2 separate regions of the Homo sapiens genome follow, and region 1 is reported to be linked to region 2. The links are microRNA targets in miRTarBase. Many come from high-throughput screens and were not tested one by one. Region 2 holds a microRNA gene; the other region holds the end of a gene's coding sequence.
The links. Region 2 holds the annotated microRNA hsa-miR-216a-3p (UCACAGUGGUCUCUGGGAUUAU, at 1,936-1,957, shown strand). A microRNA usually pairs through its seed, bases 2 to 8, with sites in the 3' UTR of a target mRNA and lowers its output. Matches are read on the target gene's strand: a 7mer-m8 pairs with bases 2 to 8, a 7mer-A1 pairs with bases 2 to 7 and ends in A, and an 8mer does both.

Region 1: miRTarBase lists ZNF329 as a target of hsa-miR-216a-3p. Seed matches in the 3' UTR shown: 7mer-m8 at 743-749, 7mer-m8 at 893-899 and 8mer at 1,709-1,716.

What each region holds. Positions count from the first base shown.
Region 1 is chr19:58,125,215-58,128,214 of GRCh38, reverse strand. ZNF329 (zinc finger protein 329) reads left to right here. Exons shown (of 4, transcript NM_024620.4): 4 at 1-1,967. The coding sequence ends at 337. Among named protein-coding and RNA genes, the nearest start is that of ZNF329, 24 kb to the left of the region's middle.
Region 2 is chr2:55,987,787-55,990,937 of GRCh38, reverse strand. It overlaps MIR216A (microRNA 216a), which reads left to right and starts at 1,879; the gene lies at 1,879-1,988. The region is part of intron 2 of MIR217HG (MIR217 host gene); the gene reads left to right. All of the region lies in intron 3 of LOC105374690 (a long non-coding RNA gene), which reads right to left.

The DNA of each region.
Region 1 (3,000 bases), not on the chromosome of region 2:
CCAGTGTCAGAAACTTTTCAGGAATATCGCTGGCCTCATTAGGCACCAGAGGACTCATACTGGTGAGAAGCCCTATGAGTGTAATCAGTGTGGCAAAGCCTTCAGGGACAGCTCCTGTCTGACCAAGCACCAGAGAATTCACACTAAGGAGACCCCATATCAGTGTCCAGAATGTGGGAAGTCCTTCAAGCAGAACTCTCACCTGGCAGTACATCAGAGACTCCATAGCAGGGAGGGTCCCAGCCGGTGTCCTCAGTGTGGAAAAATGTTCCAAAAGAGCTCATCCCTTGTTCGACATCAAAGAGCACACCTGGGAGAGCAACCCATGGAAACATAATGGTTGGGGGCCACATGAGTCTTCCAGTTCACTCTCACTCCTGTGTTTAGGAGGCGTGTCTTAGATCTGACTCCTCTCTGGTCAGTAGAAAAGAATCCTTTAAGCTATCCAGTGAATTGATGAATGTGAGACATTGCTGAGCCACACTGTTAAGTCTGCTCATTGGGGAACTCCAGAGACAACTTAGGATGAGGGCAGAAAAGTCTTTGGGGATGATTCAGTCTGTACCAGACATGACAACACACACACTGGAATGAAATGTGCAAACATGGGGGTGACACCACAGAGAGAACCTGTGAATGCATTCAGAACATGATTGGAATGAAGAGCCCTGTAGTAGGGAGTTTCCACCTTGTACGTAAGCAAACACTGAATCAACTTTTTTTTTTTTTTCGGACAGAGTCTCACTGTGCAGTGGCATGATCTCCACTCACAGCAACCTCTGCCTCCCAGGTTCAAGCAGTTCTCCTGCCTCAGCCTCCAAAGTAGCTAGGATTACAGGTGCCTGCCACCATGCCTGGCTAATTTTTTCTATTTTTAGTAGAGACAGGGTTTCACTGTGTTGGCCAGGCTGGTCTTGAACTCCTGACCTCATGATCCGCCCACCTCAGCCTCCCAAAGTGTTGGGATTACAGGCATGAGACACTGCCTGGCCTGAATCAACCTTTTTTAAGTGTAATCAGAAAGAGAGGCTTTGGCAGGGGCTCTTACTGTGTTTTCTGTAACAACAAAGGTGTACAATGAGAGAGTCCACACAGTGCTGTACTGCACACACCACAGAATGTGTGAGATTTTCCTGTTTGAATGTATGTCTGCATTATACTCCTGCAATAATGCTGAGGACTCGTTGCAGGAGGGCAAACTAGGTGAATAAATTACCTGTGAATGAACAATGAAGTCGTTCCTCTTAAGACTGAAACAAGCAGGCCAGATGTGGTGGCTCACGCCTGTAATCCTAGCACTTTGGGAGGCCGAGGCGGCCAGATCACAAGGTTAGGAGTTCAAGACCAGCCTGGCCAGCATGGTGAAACCCCATCTCTACCAAAAATACAGGAAATTATCTGGGCATAGTAGTGTGTGCCTGTAATCCCAGCTACTTGGGAAGCTGAGGCAGGAGAATTGCTTGAACCTGGGAGGTGGAGGTTGCAGTGAGCTAAGATCGCACCACTGCACTCCAGCCTGGGTGACAGAGCGAGACTCCATTTCAAAAAAAAAGACTGAAACAAGCTTGTGCTAAGATGGAAAGGGCTGCTTCTAACAGATGTGGTTTGTTGCTTTAGTTGTTGAAGCAAAAATACTGAGTTGTTATGTTTATGTTATCACCCCACCACTACCTCCATGGTTGTTCATTTAGGATGCTTCTAATTCAGCCACTGTGAACCATTATAAAGGTTTTATTGCCATGTTGAAAATGTTTATAATATGGCAAAAAGGGGCATCAAATAGAAGATTTACTATTATTCCAGCCATGTAAAAATATGTGCACATATGGATGTATGTTGAAAGTGGATGATGGAGAAATAAAATGTGGTTTTCTTTGGGGACTGGAATTTTGTATCATATTTTTTTCTCTGTTACAGATACTTGTTGGCATAATAATTTGGTAATAAATTAAAAAGTGAAGCCAAAAGGAGGTTAATTTGGGGTTTCTTTGGACCTTTAGTAGTAGGGACTGGATCAGGGCAACAGGGAAGCTGTAAGTGTGGATGGAGGGGCATTGGGCAGTAGCGTCTCTGGAATCAGCATCCCAAAGCCCAGGGCATGAGAATAACTTCCTTCTTTGGGACTTGGGTTATAAGGGGTTGTCAGTGTAGAAGAGAGAGTGAGTCCCAGAGAATGGAGAACAGGAAGCCTGTAGAAAATTTGGGATGACTTTGGAGTGGCCCTTCCGAGGCAGTGCAGTACTGGCCGAGTGAAAGCCAGTCAAGGTGGATGACACAGCCTTGAAGCCCCATGAGTGGATCCCCTTGGGATTTTGCCTCTAGACAATTTCCTCTCCTGGGAGAAGGGACAGGTGTGACGATAGTGAAGATTAGTGATGAGTCAGTCCAGGACTGGGGTCAGCCAGGCCCATTGTATTAGCTGGATCAAGGTTCATGTGTGTGTGACCTGGTGTCTCCATGGTGCTGGTATTCTGAGGTCCGGACCCTCAGGCCAGCTCGTGGGGAGCTTCAAGCAGCCATGCCTCCTTCTCTGTGTGTGTTCTCTTTTGTCTGGCATCAGCTGTGGCCTCCATGGCACTTGCTGTCTCCCATGAGGCAGCCAACCTTGGTATGCCTCTGATAGCTGTGTCATGGGAAGGGTGGGCAGCCAGTCCTGAGAGAGGAATGAGTAGATAGGTAATGGAGGCACGGAGTGAAGAAGGGAAGAGTGGCCCTGAAAGAGCATTTAGAGAAGTAAAGCTCCCCCACACACATTGGGATATGGTGATCTCATGGTGAGAGGTGCAGGGGCATGGAGGACTAGCGGGGACCCTTGTTGAACCCTCTGGAGTCAGGATGGGATGGTGCTGTGTCCCAGGGTGTGGTGATGGATGAAAGGGGACCAGGCTGACTTGTCTTCTCCAGAGAGTTGCGTTTGAGTATAGCTCACATACAGAAAAGTGCACTGCAGACTCTCCTTGACCCAACTTAAATCAGGATCCCCTGAGCCCTCTGACCTTG
Region 2 (3,151 bases):
TTTCTTCCTTTTTCTTTTTTAAATGCCCATCACAGCAACCCACTAAGGTAGGCAAGGCAGAAACGTATATGTCTTTGCTTCCATTGAGAGCCCACCTCCCTGTGCAGTTGTGGACATGACAACTTAAGATTAATAAAAAGCTGTCTCATCTTCCACATCAGCATATGATGTTCCCATTTATGATCTTTTCTTAATGTTTTCTAGCAGAGGGAAGAAGAACTACATACTCCTGTCACTTCTCTATGGTAACTTTTCACTATTAAACTTTCTAGAGAGAAAGGAAAATCAAATATAAGATTAAGAGAAAAGAAAAAACTGAACGTCATTCATGTTGCTCTGAGAAGCCCTTGTTTTTTGATTAAGATAAAATCTGCTTATTTTTAATCCTGAGCAATTTGACTCCAGAAAATAAACTTAGAACAATATTTAAAAAGTTAAATCCTAATGATGAGACATTCTTATTTTACAAAAGTAGCTTTGTACTTAGGAGTCCATATGAGGCACAAGATTATATTCAATTGTTCTTTCTCAATTGTTTTGTAACTTTATATTTACCTGACTTTTAAAACGAAAAGCCACTTTTCTAACTCTGTAAATTACCACTCTCTTAATTGTGTCAAGTCTCAATTATTAAAGGACAAGTTATGAGCTGAAATCCATAATTCTTTGCTTCAACAAACATTTGATTTAGTTTGACAAAATTTTTTTGAGCACTTATTAAACATCAGATGCTAAACTGAGAATAGTATAGTTGAGGATATAGAGATGAATAAGCACAGTGCCAACACTTGGAAGTTTGCAGTCAATGAAGGAGAAAGCATGTGAGTGAGAAAACACCATTGTGTATTACAGGTGCCAAAAAAGGGAGACTGGGGAGAGAAGGCAGTGTGTGATAGTTTTCAATGTGTGACTGTCACACAAGGGGGTGTGTGTGTGTGTGTGTGTGTGTGTGTGTGTGAAAGAGAGAGAGAGGAGGGAGAGAGAAAGAAGAAATAATTCCAAGTATGGGCAAACACAGCTCATTGGATTCTCAGAACTTGTTAGAGCTGGAGTCTACAATGTAGAGGAAGAAATGGTCTAGTATGAAGTGAAGCTGGAGAAAGGCAGTGGAAAATCTCCACCGAAGTGCAAATCGCAGCCACCAAAACCAGACCTACTGAATCAAAATATAGAGGTAGGTCCTGGGGATCTACATTTGTAACAAGTTTCCTATGTGCTTCTTACACTCACTCAAGTTGAGATGCCATCCACGGCAGATGGTGGGGAAACTCTGAGGGCGTTTCCTCTTCCTTCCGTTCTTAATCATTATTCTTACCATTGATTAGCCCCACCCAGTGGACTGAGGGGCTTAGATCATGGCTCAGTCTCACTTAGCCATGACAGTGATGTGGGCAAGAGGGGAGGACATACCACCATCTATGAAAGGTAATAGCCACCGCTATTGACACATCTGGCCATTTGGTGAGTATACGGTCATTACTTTTTCAACGTAATTGCTGGTTTTCTTGTCTGAGGACAAATTTTAGAGTGTTTGGCTTTGATGTTTCCAAGTTCTCTATAAAGCTTGTTTAAAAAATCATTTTTAGTGATTGGTTTTACATTCACCTGTACTCCTACTTGGCTGTTTCTTACTATATATGGATTAGAGTAAATCCTTTCTAAATGCAAAGATTATACTTTTATGACATTACATGCAATATAGCATATGCCAGAAATCTGTGAATTCAGCAAGAGGAGTAGCTTGATAATGTCGCCTCAAGAAAAATGCAGAGGGGTACATCAGGGCTTCTGCTGGTGCACTCGATGTATGAAGATGTGCTTCCACCTGAGGCAGCCACGTGCCTCTGCTCATACACTTTCTCTTGCAGGTCTAACACGGATGGCTGTGAGTTGGCTTAATCTCAGCTGGCAACTGTGAGATGTTCATACAATCCCTCACAGTGGTCTCTGGGATTATGCTAAACAGAGCAATTTCCTAGCCCTCACGAATCAAAAGACTTGCATGGCAACCAAAATTAAACACCAAATTTCTATTTCATGACCAAGACGGGGGGAAAAGTTTCGATGGTTACTGTTTCATGCTCAACCTCTTTTAATCTTAGTAAAGTCTTTTTCTAAAGTGCTGTTGTGCTGGAAAGGAAACCAGCCTTGGGAATTAATTTGCCTTTATTGGATTCGCTTGCTACTTACTGCGCTCCTTCAGTGCTACTTGGTTTTTTAAAAAATTGCAGCCAAGGGAGTTTGGGTGTTAGAAGCTGAACCCAAAATATTTTCCCTCTGAAAGCTCCTCCCACTCTCTTTGTGGGTGCTACTCCATCAAATTCCAAACAGTCTAAAAGAGGACGATCTCCTGCCAGGCCCTCCTCAAACTTCAACTCCCCAGATTATCACATTTAATCGCCCTTCCTCATTCCTTCTGTAAGTGTTTCACATTCATCTGCCCTAAATAATATTGAAATTTAGAATCAACTATGGCTTAGGCTGAGGTTGCCATGAAACTTTTGAGCTGTACCCAACTCTAATTCTCGGTGATCCCTGGAAACAGATAATCCTTTTCCATAAAAAGAATAAGAACAAATGTAATTCTTCAGGGTGAAAAATCAAGGCCAGTTATCTTCCTCATTCACCCAGTAACACAAAACAAATCAGATGAACCAAATTTATAATTAAATGTGGGATAACTTTAACAACAAAAATTATTAAAATGCTATTTCCAAGGTCTTGACTGGCACATATCCCCTCAGGTATCCTCAGAAAGAGAAGTCTGTATATCTCAGTTTGATTAAATTACATTTCTGGGCCGGGCGCAGTGGCTTACGCCTGTAATCCCAGCACTTTGGGAGGCTGAGGCAGGCGGATCATGAGGTCAGGGGATCGAGACCATCGTGGCTAACACGGTGAAACCCTGTCTCTACTAAAAATACAAAAAATTAGCTGGGCATGGTGGCGGGCACCTGTAGTCCCAGCTACTCAGGAGGCTAAGGCAGGAGAATGGAGTGAACTCAGGAGGCGGAGGTTGCAGTGAGCCAAGATTGCGCCACTGCACTCCAACCTGGGCGACAGAGCGAGACTCTGTCTCAAAAAAAAAAAAAAAAAAAATTACATTTCTGTATCAAGGCACATTAGTATGACCTATTAGATTTCCTTGCCA